Homo sapiens: one gene and its partners. The protein of the gene in region 3 interacts with the protein of the main gene of each other region in a biochemical or structural test. Each region holds a gene or a part of one and is shown on either strand. Other genes may lie near its edges. The genes, in order: COPA, COPB1, COPZ1 and TMED10.

Region 1 (3,725 bases), on a different chromosome or scaffold from region 3:
AAAATTAGAAATAGTAACAAGCTGGCCCAGATTGATTATAAACAAATATTAAAAAGAAATTTAAAAAAATTAAATAAGAAGAAAAATGCATCTGGTCTCTTATTTTTGTACATTTTAGGGGATTTTCTGAATGAGGAAGATAAGCTATTTTATATTTATGATCCTGGTTTTCATGTCTTCAGTTGTGTTCATTGATGCCTAGTACTTTGGTAGTTGACTCAACTTCACATCTGAATATGATATTGTTTCTCTGCTTAGCTCAGGCTTACTGAGCAATGTAGTATTTTCCATGTAATAAGTTAAGGTCTGTTTGCTTGACAGGTGAGTACAGACCACACATGTATGGGCGTTGTTTGCCATCAAGTTAGGAGCCTAAGAAGCTGATGCCCTATATTATTGTTTCCCTTGGAGTCATGGTATCTATCTGTCCTACTTTTTTTTTTTTTTTTGAGACCGAGCCTCTCTCTGTCGCCCAGGCTGGAGTGCAGTGGAGCGATCTCAACTCACTGCAAACGCCGCCTCCCAGGTTCAAGTGATCCTGCTGCCGCAGCCTCCCAAGTAGCTGGGATCACATCCGGCTAATTTTTTTTTGTATTTTTGTAGAGACAGGGTTTCCCCATGTTGGCCAGGCCGGTCCCAAACTCCTGACCTCAGGTGATCCCCCTGCCTTGACCTCCCAAAGTGCTGGGATTACAGGTATGAGCCATCGTGCCCAGCCTGTCATACTTTTTAAAAGTGATGGGTAAAGCACTTAAGGGGTCTATATTCAAGCCAAGAGCACAATTTTGCAGTAGAAAAAAGAGTTGCAAATCAAGCCCTGGATAAATATCTCCTGCTATTAAATGCAGATGGCTTCTTCCCAAAGAAAGAAAAACTTTTTTTTTTTTTTTTTTTTTTTGAGACTGAGTCTCGCTCTGTTACCCAGGCTGGAGTACAATGGCATGATTTCGGCTCACTGCAACCTCTTGTATCCTGAGTTCAAGCGATTCTCCTGCCTCAGCCTCCCGAGTAGCTGGGACTACAGGCACATGCCACCACGCCTGGCTAATTTTTTGTATTTTTAGTAGAGACAGGGTTTCACTATGTTAGCCAGGATGGTCTCGATCTCCTGACCTTGTGATCCACCCGCCTCGACCTCCCAAAGTGCTGGGATTACAGGCATGAGTGACCACGCCCAGCCTGAAAAACTTCAATAATTTTATCTTTAGCTTTTCCCTAATCCTACCCCAACCCCATGTTGTTTATCTGACCTATATTTTCATTCTTGTTCTTTTCCCCTCAAATCTTAAACAAGGCTTTCTACCAAGGTTCCTACCTATTTAGAAATGCCAAAATACAAATAATGTATATAAATCTATATTTATATACATATTTCTATCTCTGTAAAGATATCAATTTCTCTGAGCCTTTTAGAGGCTCAATAACTATTTCTGTTTCTTAGTTTGATTTGTCTTTGCAGGTTTGGAATTACAAGCTTCGGCGCTGTCTTTTCACATTGCTTGGGCACTTAGATTATATTCGCACCACGTTTTTTCATCATGTAAGTAGTCATGGTGGCGCTAGTTTTGGAGCATTCTTAGTTTCCCCATAGTAATCTTTATTTGATCCTTGAGAACCCATGTTTTAATAATAGAGTTGTTTTTGGAGTGGCTCTTCTACAATCTGTGTGGTATTGTCCTTTCTGCTTTTTTTCTTTCTGCAAAAGGAAGCACTTGGGATTATACTGAATTTAATTTTATTGGATTCAGTGGATTCTATGGGAAGTCATTGTTTCTCTGTAGGGAAAAGTAGGGATTTGATTTCAGATTTGCTGAACCAAAAAACAAAAGTTTGCCAGCTAATCCCATGTAGGGTATTATTAGTAAGTAGTAGGTGTGTCTGGAAGAAGGTCAGACTAAGATGCCATTTTGATCAGCTAACAAACGTTTCGAAGTATTAACAATCATACCCCTCTATCCTAGGATTTTTGGGTCTGGTGGAGGCTGTTCCCTTAGCCAGGCTTACTACTTTCTTTGATCTGCCAGGTAACATAGTAGATTTAGATAGTGAGGTGCAGATTACAGACTCCCAACCTCTGAATCCAGTTGCACCCTGACAGGATCTCCTTATAGTTCTGTGTATTAGCATTAACTTACACTATTCTTTGATTGCCAGTAAATTAAGTCTCTTTAATTAAGTTAGAAAGAATATGATGAAATAAACAATTTACTGGTTGAGTATATATTATTTCTTTTTTTAATTAAAAAATTCTAGGATAGGAGAGAATGAGAAAATTACAGCTTAAACATTTGAGAATGATAACCACTCAATAAGATAACTTATTAAGTAGGAATTATTTGTCATTGCCATAAAGGACTTCCTGAAGACCCTTGCCTAGAACAAGTTGCCATCTACCTGGAAAGTTACGAAAGACCTTATTTTCTTTCATTTTACCAGCTCACTAAATATGTGTGTGCCTTATACTTGCTAAGCTTTGTGCTAAATACTGAAGGTAGAGATACTATCTCTATTGAAAATAGAAATACCATCTATTTTCAGTGTTTAACACAAAGCTTAGCAAGTGTAGTAAGAAGGAAGTGTAAATAAGAAATACTTCCTTTTCTCAACAATCTTATAGACTCCAAAAAGGCTAAATTGTCTTTACATGTTACTTTCTGCTTTGCTTGCTGAGACCTGGGAATTTTTTGAAACTGGACAGAAAGAAGTCAGACAATAAAATAATATTCCCATCCTAGAGTTAAAGGTAGAAGAGTCTTTCACAGGATCTTAATTTACATGATTAACTGTATATAAATACACACACACACACACACACATATAGAAGTAAATGTAAATGTATGTTTCACTATCTGCCTCTGAGAATGTATTGTGCCTCTAACTGGCTTCCATTCTTAAGTCTTATAGGTGAAAGTGCCGAAGTTGAGAAAAGCTGTTAGAGTGGTAGAGAAAAGGAGACAGCTAACCTGATAGCAAAAGCAGCAGCCCCTTTGCTAATGTAGCTGAGCCGTTAAGCAATGCAGTTCTTTAGAGAAAAATGATTACAAGAACCTGATAGAACAGATTTGTTTAATGTTTAAAGCCTTTGTCTGGAATATCTTTCAGGAATATCCCTGGATTCTGAGTGCCTCCGATGATCAGACCATCCGAGTGTGGAACTGGCAATCTAGAACCTGTGTTTGGTAAAGCAGGAGGCAGAGGGCTCGAAAAGAGTCTTCATTTTTCCTAGTTTTTCATAATGAGCTTCTCTTAGAACAATCTTCTCCCTTCTCAAATGGACTATGTCGGCTGATTAATTACTGATTGTATTTGTAGGATGCTTTTAAGTGCAAAATAATAAATGTAGAGGCAATCCCATATATGAATCTGGACTTCCAATAATTTCTTACCAGGAAGAGAAGTCATATAGCCTTTTAGAACAAGAACTTTTAGCTGGTTTTCAATTATTTTCCCATAAAACCTGAGTCAAGGTCTAGACCTTTGTCTTATTTTGTGTTTGGAGCTGGAGCTTTACATAGAACTTTCCATGAAGAGTTAGGGACCATTTAAAGTGATGGCCTTGGCCCGGCGCCATGGCTCATGCCTGTAATCCCAGCACTTTGGGAGGCCAAGGCAGGCAAATCACCTGAGGTTAGAAGTTCGAGACCAGCCTGGCCAAGATGGTGAAACCCCGTCTCTACTAAAAATACAAAAATAAGCTGGACGCGGTGGCGTGTGCCTATAGTCCC
Region 2 (4,158 bases), on a different chromosome or scaffold from region 3:
GAATATAAAAACGAGTACATGTAAAACTAGTGAAGTCTGAACAAGGCTGGGTGAATTATGTCTGTCAATTTCCTGAAATTGATATTGTACTATAACTATGCAAGATGTTACCATTGGGAGAAACTAGGTAAAGAGTATATGGGATCTCTGTATTCATGTCACTCTACCATTAAGATTAAATATTAAAAAAAATGAATGCACAGAATCAGAGAGGCACTCTTAAAGTGCTGTCAACACATGGCCTTTGAATACAATTTTGGGTGCTCAAAGAATTTGTAGATTGCTTGATGGTTCTAAAAAGAGAAAGCTCAAAAGAGCTAGATCCTACATAAATGAGGTACTATTGGTGTTCCATCTTCCTGAGATGAACCTGTTAACTAGGGCAGTTGCCGTCAGATCTGTTTTTATTCGCAGTATTTTGCTTAAGCTTTAAGATATTTTGTTATTAATAATTGGCCATAAAACCCTTTTGTGGGCAGAGGGAGGTGTAGGGGCGGGGCGTGCTATGGAACTTCAAATGGGCAAAACCGAAAGTACTATGGCTGATTGCAGCTGTAACAGGTCTTTGGAGATACGTAAAATCCTTTAAAACAGTGACTGTCTCCCTTTATGCATAAAAATTTTTTCTAATCTACTGGGTGCTCAGAAAGGATCACGGAAAGAGGCCATTATTAAATAAAAAGCAGAAATTATACCAATGTGACTTTGGATTTTCAAATAACTCCAGCCCTACCTGCAGAGAGGCAGATTCAAACTACTAGCGATGTTAAGAACTGAAATGGATTTTAATCTAGTGATAATTAATAAAATAACTGAATTACCTTCCCAATAGTATTAGTTACTTTCCCAGTTTATTAGGGTGTGGACAAGAAAAAGGATTACTGGGTTTCCACTTTCTAGTCCAGAGCTCTTTTTCACGGGAACAGAGCCCTGTAAAAGTTTCCCTCTCTCCAAGCACTTTCTCCCCTTGACTGTTCCTGAAGAAGGAACGATTTCCAGTTAGCGTTTAAATTAGCATAGTGCTTAACTCAGAGCTTGGCTTGCAGGGAAAACTAGAAAATACGTGGTTTCATTGCTCTGCGGCCTAATCAAACCCTGGACAAGAGAAGAGGAAGAAAATAGGATATACTTGCAGCGCGCAAGCGCTGCACAAAGAAAGCATGTCCTCTCTGAGTCGCCGTAGGTGCTAGGTGGCTGTGGCTTCGGTCGTTACCCCACCCCCTTCCACGTCAGCCAAGGACTCTGGAGCCGCCGCCGCCGCTGCTGCGGTTCATAGCCGGAGTAGACGGAGCCGCAGTAGACGGATCCGCGGCTGCACCAAACCACTGCCCCTCGGAGCCTGGTAGTGGGCCACAAGCCCCCAGTCCCAGAGGCGTGGTGGGTCGGGCAGAGTCGGAAGAACTGGCTTTCTAGCTGGAAGATGCGGAAGGGGAGCGACTAGGCCGCTTGCGTCTGGGCCTGGCAGAAGGGACCGGGTGGGGGTACGGGTGGGGGTGCGGGTCGGGGTGGGGGCGGAGGGCTAGGAAGCTCCGGGTCGGACGCTCCATCCCGTCCTTTGTATTGGCCGGGGGTCTTTTCCCTCCCAAGACCCCTAGGCGTACCCTTTCAGGCCTAGGGCTGCTTTGCTGGAGGAAGGGGAGGAGGAAGCGGGTGGGGCGAGGTGGGGGTGCAGCGCGTTGATTAAGGGACCCGCGGACATAGAGTCGGAACCCACCAAGGACCGCGATAAAGCGCTTTAGGGTTTTGGCAGAGTATTCAGGCACAAGGTCTCTTAACTTGAGCATGCAGATTGTGTGTTGTGTAAAAACCATACGGTCCATAACATTGTGGGGTGTGGCTGGGGGGACTGTCACTGTTCTGTGGGCCTTCATTCGGCTATACAGCATTCTCAAACACTGGACCGGGATGCGATGAGGGAGTGATAGATAATATACCTTATGCCAGAGCTGATAATGTGGTTTTTACTAGAATTTATTTTTATGGGAACACGATATAGATTGACCTGCCCTTTCTAATACTTTAAAAGGTCACTATAGGTACTTGTTTGTGGGTTTTTTTTTTTTAATTTGTAATGATATGTCTGTGTTTATTTTTCTAGATTTTCTGGCATCCTTAAATCTTGTGTCAAGGATTGGTTATAATATAACCAGAAACCATGACGGCGGCTGAGAACGTATGCTACACGTTAATTAACGTGCCAATGGATTCAGAACCACCATCTGAAATTAGCTTAAAAAATGATCTAGGTAAACTTCGATATTATTTTGAGAATGAAATGAAAAAAGAAAAAACAAAAATAAAAAACTCATATTTCATATTCCTTTATAATTAGAAATGCTTAATTTTTGTCTAAAGTTTTTCTAGGATCTCTTCGATAGACCTTTTATTAAAAATGCGAACTTCTTTAAATATTGGTTGTTTGAAATAGAACATCTCAGTTTATCTTAGTAAACCTAAAGAAATTGTAATAGTTTAGATATTCCTCAAAATGTCATAATTTTTGTAGACTTCAATATATTAATGTGGCTGATTATTTTCTCTAGGCAACAGGTTGAGGATGTGTATTGGAATATCTTAATTCCATCGTGCACTTAACTTCATGTTACTTAGCTTGTAAAACCAAAAGAACTTTGTTCTTTGGATTACCCACCCAAACAATTAGGTGAACACTGGAATAAACATGTATTTTCCAGAAAAGTTTACCTTTTCATTTTTTATGCATTTTTGCAAATAAGAAAACAACTATATTTCTGAACTTTTTGTAATGTTTAATTTTTGGGGGTACACAGTAGATGTATATATTTATGGGGTACATGAAATGCTTTGATACAGGCATGCAATACATAATTATCACATGGAAAAATGGAGTATCCATCCCTTCAAGCATTTGTCTTCTGTGTGACAATCCAGTTACACTTTCAGTTATTTTTAAATGTCCAATTAAATTATTATTGACTGTAGTTACCCTGTGTGCTATCAAATATCGGGTCTAACTCATTTTTTCTGTACCCATTAACCATCTCCACTTCCCTACCACTACCCTTCCCACCTCTGATAACCATCCTTTTACTCTGTCTCCGTGAGTTTGTTTTGATTTTTAGCTTCCACAAATAAGTGAGAACATGTGAAGTTTGTCTTTCTATGCCTGACTTATTTCATGTAACATAATGACCTCCAGTTCCATCCATATTTTTGCAAATGACAAGATCTCATTCTTTTTTTATGGCTGAATAGTACTCCATTGTGTATATGTACCACATTTTCTTTATACATTTATCTGTTGGTGGACACTTAGGTTGCTTTCAAGTTTTGACTGTTGTAAACAGTGCTGCAACAAACATAGGAGTCCAGATATCTCTTTGATGTACTCATTTCCTTTCTTTTGGATATATACCCAGTAGTCGGATTGCTGAATCGTATGGTACCCCTGTTTTTAGTTTTTTGAGGACCCTCCAAACTGTTCTCCATAGTGGGTATACTAGTTTACATTCCCACCAACAGTGTACGAGGGTTCCCTTTTCTCCACATCCTCTCCAGCATTTGTTTTTGCTTGTCTTTTGGATAAAAGCCATTTTAACTGGGGTGAGATGATATCTCATTGTAGTTTTGATATGCATTTCTCTGATGATCAGTGATGTTGAGCACCTTTTCATATGCCTGTTTGCCAATTGTATGTCTTTGTGAAATGTCTGTTCAAATCTTTTGCCCATTTTTAAATCAGATTATGAGTTTTTTTTTTTCCTGTAGAGTTGTTTGAGCTCCTTACATATCTGGTTATTAATCCCTTGTGAGATAGGTAGTTAGCACATATTTTCTCCCATTCTGTGGGTTGTCTCATCACGTATGTCGATTGTTTCCTTTGCTGTGCGGAAGCTTTTTAACTTGATGTGATCCCATTTGTCCGTTTTTGCTTTGGTTGCCTGTGCCTGTGGGGTATTATTCAAGAAATTTTTGGCCAGACCAGCGTCCTGGAGATTTTTCCCAATATTTTCTTGTAGTAGTTTCATAGTTTAAAGTCTTAGATTTAAGCCTTTAATCCATTTTGATTTTATTTTTGTGTAAGTTGAGAGATGGGGGACAAGTTTCATTCTTCTGCACATAGTTTTCCAAGCACCATTTATTGAAGGGACTGTCTTTTCTCCAATGTATGTTCTTGGC
Region 3 (3,725 bases):
AAGAGCAGGGCATTGTTGATTTCTTTTTGGGAGATAAAGTAACCATTCTTCAGGCCCAGGGATTGTAGGGGATTGGCAAAGGCTCCAGGGAGTTGATTTAGTTTTAGAAGTTGGGTTTTGCCGGGCTCAGTGGCTCACGTTCGTAATCCCAGTACTTTGGGAGGCCAAGGCGGGCGGATCATGAGGTCAGGAGATTGAGACCATCCTGGTTAACATGGGGAAACCCTGTCTCCACTAAAAATACAAAAAATTAGCCGGGCATGGTAGCGGGCGCCTGTAGTCCCAGGTGCTTGGGAGGCTGAGGCAGGCGAATGGCATGAACCTGGGAGGCGGAGCTTGCAGTGAGCCGAGATCGCGCCACTGCACTCCAGCCTTGGCGACAGAGTGAGACTCTGTCTCAAAAAAAAAAAAAAAAGTTGGGTTTATTAATTCACAGTAATTCATGCTACTGGGGAGGACTGGATGGAGAGTATGTCCCTCCCATAGAATAATTCTCTTACTAAGTAAGGGGACTGGGAGGGAGCCGAATCTTTACCTCTGTGTTTACTCTTGTAATCCCCTGTGGTCCTGTCAGATCTGAGCATCCTCAAGGTGCTTTCCTGGGCTTCATTCTTGACATTAGAAGTAGGGAAAGGCCAAGCATAAGGAAGTGTCCCAGATGAAATGTCATTCAGTACTTCAGGAATGGAAGCAACACTCCCAATTTTTTTTTCTTTTTTTTTTTTTTTGAGATGGAGTCTCACTCTGTCACCCAGGCTGGAGTGCAGTGGCGTGATCTCGGCTCACTGCAACCTCTGCCTCCCAGGTTCAAGCGATTCTCCTGCCTCAGCCTCCCGAGTAGAGTAGCTGCAATTATAGGCACGTGCCACCACGCCTGGCTAATTTTTGTATTTTTAGTGGAGACAGGGTTTTACCATGTTGGCCAGGCTGGTCTTGAACTCCTGACCTCAAATGATCCACCTACCTTGGCCTCCCAAAGTGCTGGGATTATAGGCATGAGCCACTTAGACCAGTTTTTTTTTGACTTCTAGTCCTTGTTTTTTCCCTTCTGTAGAACAGGAAGCACCCAGGCAGGAGGACTGCATGAGTCGAGTTCAAGACAAGCTTGGGCAACACAGTGAGACCCTGTCTCTGCAAAAAATAAAAAAATTAGCCAGGTGTGGTGGTGCATACCTGTAGTCTCAGCTACTTGGGAGGCTGAGGTAGGAAGATTGCTTGAGCCCAGGAGGTTGAGGCTGCAGTGAGCTGTGATCATGCTACTGCACTCCAGCCTAGGTGACATAGCAAGACCCTGTCTCAAAAAACAAAACAAAACAAAAAACAGGAAGCTTCTGCCATTTACCCTCTCCTCCCTTTCCACCTTCCCACTAGCCCTCTGTTCTCTGTTACCCGTGTAGATGGGTAATAGAAGAGATATAAGTTACTTTTCCTGAAAACATCCAGGGCTCTGAACTTCATTCCCCCAGCAGCTCCCAAGTGAACCCAGTACAGACAGCCATCCAGACCAGAACAGCAGGCACTCTCAGCCCTGCAAAATCAGCAGGGTGAATGGCTCAGATTTCCTCAGGAAGGGGATGATTTATTTCTTATCCAGGTGAATGAATAGTAATTCATTCGGGTAATCTAGTGAAAGACTCAAACTGACAGATGTGACAGGCCACATGCACCAACCAACGGATCTGAGGCTGGTGTATGCAGACCCTGCCCCCTCTTTGGGCTTCTTTTCAGGGCCTGAGCAGAGCTGGTAAGGGATAGGGAGAAGAGGGAACAGAGAATGTCTCAGGAGGTTTGTCAGAGCTTGAGTACAAATAAGGTTTGCATTGAACCCCTCTCACCTCCGGCCACCTCCAGACTGAGTCTTAGCTCTGTTTATATTGTTTTTTTCCACCCACTGATGTCAGTGTTTATGAGCAATGTTATGAGCAGCATCATGGCAGGTAGGAAAGAAATAATAGCGTGGATAATCAACCCCTGAATAGTCAGAAATTGACTGTGTTATTTGAATCTCTTTCCATACATTCCTTATTCAGCAAACGAGTAGAAAGGGGTTTTGAGTGAACTAGCTAAAAAGTTCTTCACCTTATTTACTTCTTTGTGTGGTTGGTGGAGATGTTTATTGGTCTAGTTTAGGTTCCTCAATTGAGACAAGGTCCTAGGATTTCTTTCACATACAAGTTGGTTATTCTCTTCTCTTCTCTTGGGGACTCAGGAAAAATGTAGAAAAGCGAGCACTGCTGGAGAACATGGAGGGGCTGTTCTTGGCTGTGGATGAAATTGTAGATGGAGGGTAAGTTCTCTGACCTGCCTTGATCTTGGGTGAGGTGGCGGGATAACTGCCCCTGTCCTAAGTCAAGCAGGCTCAGTGGCCAGAGGTCCTGTTCCCCGACAGTGAGTTGGGCCTTCGGGACAGAGTGAACAATGATCTCTTCTTTGTTTTTGCAGGGTGATCCTAGAGAGTGATCCCCAGCAGGTGGTACACCGGGTGGCATTAAGGGTAAGCAAGAATGTGTTTCTTTGCATCCCCGCATCTATTCACAAACACCCTCCAGAGCCAGACCTGCTGGATGTGTCCAGTAGTTGGGGCTCATAGGATACATACAACCTTCTCTTTTTCTTTCAAATACATTCAGCCTTTCTCTTCCCTTCTCTTCTTATTGTCCCAAAGAAAGAAGCAGAAATAACTTATTTCTACCCCTAATATGGTGCCTAACATCTCATACAGTCTTTGCACAAAGTGGACATTTAATACATACTTATTTAATAAATGATAAAATAAACTTTAATATTTATGGTTTTGAAATTATAAAGCAACTTGAAGTTGGCTTATTCCCTTCTTGGAGATGGATCCAGTCATCTGAGGCAGAGGAGTGTCTGTTTTGTCTTTTAAAGTGTTACATAGGACTGAGCGTGGTGGCTCACACCTGTAATCCCAGCACTTTGGGAAGCCGAGGCTGGCGGATCACAAGGTCAGGAGTTCGAGACCAGCCTGACCAACATGGTGAAACCCTGTCTCTACTAAAGACACAAAAATTAGCTGGGCATGGTGGTGCGTGCCTGTGATCCCAGCTACTCAGGAGGCTAAGGCAGGAGAATTGCTTGAGCCCGGGAGGTGGAGGTTGCAGTGAGCCGAGATTGCACCACTGCACTCCAGCCTGGGCGACAGAGTGAGACTCTGTCTCAAAAAAAATAAATAAATAAAATAATAATAATAAAGTGTTACATAACTGAGGATGGTACCTCTCCATTAGGAAGTACTTATTTGCCAGAACCTCAGTCCTCTTTGGTGCTGGTGATATCAGAAAGGGGCCTCTGAGTTAACCATAGAAGGCCCCAGGTCAGCTGAGGAGATAATGGTGGATGCAGAGAGAGCCCACCAACAAATTATACGGGTGCAAAGATGTCTGAGCAAAGCAAATCTCCCCATTCACAGAATGTCCTGGCTCTGACCTCCACAGAGTGAAGGCTGACAGTGCTTGGTAATGGGAAATCTCTCTTAACTGCTGTGGGCTCCATTTGCATAGTTTAATCTTCTCCTCTAACATATGTCTCTGTGTGGCAAGAGAGAGGGTCCCCCCCATCAACTCCCCGCTTTGTCTTCTTAGGCTGCTGTTGCAGCAGTTTATTTCTTCAAATTAACATGCTGTCGTTACCCATCAGGCTTTGCGGGATCCATTAAACCACTCCTGGCTCCCCCTCATCCTTTCCCTAGTGATACTGATATTCAG
Region 4 (3,725 bases), on a different chromosome or scaffold from region 3:
ACTTTTTCTTTTTTTGTTGAGATGGAGTCTCGCTTTCACCCAGGCTGCAGTGCGGTGGTGCAATCTTGGCTCACTGCAGGCTCTGCTCCCCGGGGTTCACACCATTCTCCTGCCTCAGCCTCCCAAGTAGCTGGGACTACAGGCGCCCGCCACCACGCCCGGCTAATTTTTTGTATTTTTTGTATTTTTTGTATTTCACCGTGTTAGCCAGGATGGTCTCAATCCCCTGACCTCATGATCCGCCCGCCTCTGCCTCCCAAAGTGCTGGGATTACAGGCATGAGCCACCACGCCCGGCCGTTCCACTTTTTCTTATATTTTGACGACTGCTTCAAGGATTCTCCCTATGCATCATTTTAGCTTCTGGAGTGCAACTCCTAAGTGCCAGAGCTCCTTTTCATATGGTAGGCCACATTCTAGGTCTCAGTTCAGCCAATGGATTGTCTTGTCTTTGGTCATATTTCCACCCCTGCTTTAGGCAGCTGTGGTTTGATTTGAGGTAGGAGGAGAACTGGAGACTGGTGCAGAACCTGGCCAGCTGAGCTTAGCATTTGGTGGTTGTGCTGAATGAGGCAGTCTTTTTTTTGAGATGGAGTTGCGCTCTTTTTGCCCAGGCTGGAGTGCAATGGCATGATCTCGGCTCACTGCAACCTCTGCCTCCCAGGTTCAAGCAATTCTCCTGCCTCAGCCTCCCAAGTAGCTGGGATTATAGGCGCGTACCACTACTCCCGGCTAATTTTTGTATTTTTAGTAGAGACGGGGTTTCACAATATTGTCCAGGTTGGTCTCAAACTCCTGACCTCAGGTGATCCGCCCGTCTCCCAAAGTGCTGGGATTACAGGCGTGAGCCACTGTGCCTAGCCTGAGGCAGTCTTTCTTATAAGGGTCTCTGTGAATATAGTGCCTTGGTTAATCTGACTGATTCACCTTCTTTCTGTCTAGGAACATCTCAGTATCCAGTGAATGCACCTATGTTATCATATACCACTCTGTGTTGCAGTTGTGTATTTGCCCATCTCCTGGGATAAACTATAAGCTGCTTGAACAGAGACTAGGTTTCATTCATCATTGCAATGCTTGTCTAAAATAAGGCCTGGCACATAGTAGGACCTTATCCTAAGGAATTAGTGAACAGACGAGCAAGCACTGTCTTTGCCTCATCTCTGATCTTTCCCTCTTCCATTCTCTTTATTTGCTTCCTCCCACTCTGACTCTAGCTATACTGAACACCTTACAGTTCTTTGAATATAATGTTCTCTTTACCTGGATCAATGTTTGACTTTCTGTGTCCCCTATGTGTCCCATTGGCTTATAACTTCTTTTTTCCCCCTCACCAAAAGTTGTATGAAAAGATACTGTAGTACCATTACATCCTGTTTTACATGGCACTTTTCATGTAGTGTAGTGTTTACTTTGTGAACTCTTTAATGTCTTACTCATCTTTGTGTCTTTAGTTTAACGTACACATTGTTGTATAACTGAGTTAAACATCTTAGTCTTCTTGAGAAGCCTTGTGGTATGGTAGAGACTAGATCTGAAGTAAGATAGATTTGGTTCAGATCCCAGCAGCTCCACCATTTAAAGGTTATGTGGGTCTTGCAGGGATTACTTAACCCTTCTTCTCTGGTCCTGTTTCTGTAATATGGGAATCGTAGAGCTCATAAACTTGTTAGAAGGACTGATTGAGATGGGTGAGGTTTTTATTGTGCAGGGCCCATTATGGTGCTCCATAGATGTTAGTACTCTTTTCTTTCCTCTGTATTGAATGAAAATTGAATTGCTTCTCAGAGCCCCTCATGCTATATGTCATTGAAATAAGTAGATATGGAGTATTTTAATGAGAGGAATTATGAGTAGTTTGTGATTCTTTCATTCATTCAACAAATATTTATGTAATATTTAGTATGTGTCAGACCTGGCTGAGAATATGGGGATAAACGGGACAAGGTCCTCAAGCTCTTGTGGGGAACAAAGACAAAAAACAAGTTAAAATAATAGAATTTCAGGTAGTGATAAGCACTATAATGAAAGTTCAGGCACTAGGGAGTAGGGGGTGACTGATGGGTTAAAGGGTGTTTGAGTGGTCAGGGGAGGCCTTTCTGAAGCAGAGAGAGATAAATGGATTGAAATGATGGGTGGTCCTCTCCTGCAAAGATTTCTATTTCAGACCTATATTGAGATGCATTTTGTGTTAAGATCTCCAAACTGAGTCTATTCCATACTTCCCTACTCATTTCATAAAGTGAGGCTAAATCAGGCTAACTAGTGTCAGGTATAAAGACTTTGCTGCACATAATTGAAGCAGGAAGTATCAACTCGTCATTTACAGTGAATATAGAAGTTTCCTCCATTACTTCAGGTCCATAATAAAAGCCTGTTGTAGGGACTCAGAAATTTGGGTAATATTTTTATTATTATTTTGCTCTGGCTGGAGTGCAGTGGCATGATCATAGCTCGCTGCAACCTCGAACTCCTGGCCTCAAGTGATCCTCCCACAGCACTGAGATTACAGGCATGAACCCCTGCACCTGGCTGAAAATTTGGATCTTATACCAAGTTATGATTTCTGTCCTTCCCAACTAGCTTATAGATAAGAAAGCCAAACAGATCCCTTAAAGAGTTCAGCCTTGAATCACAGGCCTACCACAACTTAAGCCTAAAAATTATGAAGAAGTAACTTGGCAGTTGGGAAACTATTGGCTTATAACTTCTTTTTTCCCTCACCCAAAGCTGTATGAGAAGATACTATAGGCCAGGCATGAGGACAGAGAGGAGAGGGAGGAGGAAGGAGAAAAGGACAGTGGTGGGGGTGGGGGCGAGGAGGAGAAAAGAGAGAGAGGCAGAGGGGCGAAGAGGCAGGGGAGGGAGGAAGGAAGGAAAAGATGGTATATATGCTATAGTTTTCAGATTATTTTGTTTGGAATTACTGTATTTCAGCTTTTTTATTACTGGTATCTGTACTGAGGTCTGTTCTGTGCTGACAAGGAGAAAGAATAGGATGCTTCGGCTGGGCGTGGTGGCTCACGCCTGTAATCCCAGCACTTTGGGAAGCTGAGGTGGGTGGATCACGAGGTCAGGAGAATGAGACCATCCTGGCCAACATGGTGAAACCCTGTCTCTACTGAAAATACAAAAATTAGCCAGGCGTGGTAGTGTGCACCTGTGGTCCCAGCTACTCAGGAGGCTGAGGCAGGAGAATCGCTTGAACCTGGGAAGTGGAGGTTGCAGTGAGCCGAGATCACGCCACTGCACTCCAGCCTGGGCGACAGAGTGAGACTCCGTCTCAAAAAAAAAAAAAAAAAAAAGGAATAGGATGCATGTTGCTCAGTCATCGAAATGAACCATCCTTTTTATCAATAACGATCCCATGAACCCTTACTTATGCCAGACTTTTTCTGTAGGGAGAAATATGGCCCTTTCAGCGTGAATTTAACGTGACTGTTGTTCACTGGGTTAGAAACAGGTCAATAAATAGATGGTTCAGTACAGAAGGCTAATTGGTACATTGACATTTAATAATATAAATCGAATTTCTTTTTGTATTATATACAAAGTTCCTAGCTTTTAATTATAACTTGACCTTTGCGTCCTTCTCCATAAAAGTTAAAGGATACATTGCTTCATTTAAATCTCTCTTATTCAGTAAACAGTTGTCTACAGCCTTCCCTGTTTTGAACTGATCTAGAGAAGGGGGCTGCTTCCAGTTTGAAATTGCTACACCATATC

What was found.
Region 1: the proteins of COPZ1 (region 3) and COPA form a complex in vitro, tested with the Homo sapiens proteins (one study listed by BioGRID).
Region 2: the proteins of COPZ1 (region 3) and COPB1 form a complex in vitro, tested with the Homo sapiens proteins (one study listed by BioGRID).
Region 4: the proteins of COPZ1 (region 3) and TMED10 form a complex in vitro, tested with the Homo sapiens proteins (2 studies listed by BioGRID, with this or other methods).

Annotation. Positions count from the first base shown.
Region 1 is NC_000001.11:160,333,057-160,336,781, reverse strand, and holds part of COPA (coatomer subunit alpha), read left to right. Parts: intron 1-1,459; coding exon 1,460-1,540; intron 1,541-3,102; coding exon 3,103-3,179; intron 3,180-3,725. UniProt on the Homo sapiens protein: The coatomer is a cytosolic protein complex that binds to dilysine motifs and reversibly associates with Golgi non-clathrin-coated vesicles, which further mediate biosynthetic protein transport from the ER, via the Golgi up to the trans Golgi network.
Region 2 is NC_000011.10:14,496,926-14,501,083, reverse strand, and holds the start of COPB1 (coatomer subunit beta), read left to right. Parts: upstream 1-1,272; 5' UTR 1,273-1,377; exon of another isoform or gene 1,378-1,475; intron 1,476-2,098; 5' UTR 2,099-2,155; coding exon 2,156-2,246; intron 2,247-4,158. UniProt on the Homo sapiens protein: The coatomer is a cytosolic protein complex that binds to dilysine motifs and reversibly associates with Golgi non-clathrin-coated vesicles, which further mediate biosynthetic protein transport from the ER, via the Golgi up to the trans Golgi network.
Region 3 is NC_000012.12:54,345,558-54,349,282, forward strand, and holds part of COPZ1 (coatomer subunit zeta-1), read left to right. Parts: intron 1-2,209; coding exon 2,210-2,287; intron 2,288-2,442; coding exon 2,443-2,494; intron 2,495-3,725. UniProt on the Homo sapiens protein: The coatomer is a cytosolic protein complex that binds to dilysine motifs and reversibly associates with Golgi non-clathrin-coated vesicles, which further mediate biosynthetic protein transport from the ER, via the Golgi up to the trans Golgi network.
Region 4 is NC_000014.9:75,166,519-75,170,243, reverse strand, and holds part of TMED10 (transmembrane emp24 domain-containing protein 10 precursor), read left to right. Parts: intron 1-3,725. UniProt on the Homo sapiens protein: Cargo receptor involved in protein vesicular trafficking and quality control in the endoplasmic reticulum (ER) and Golgi.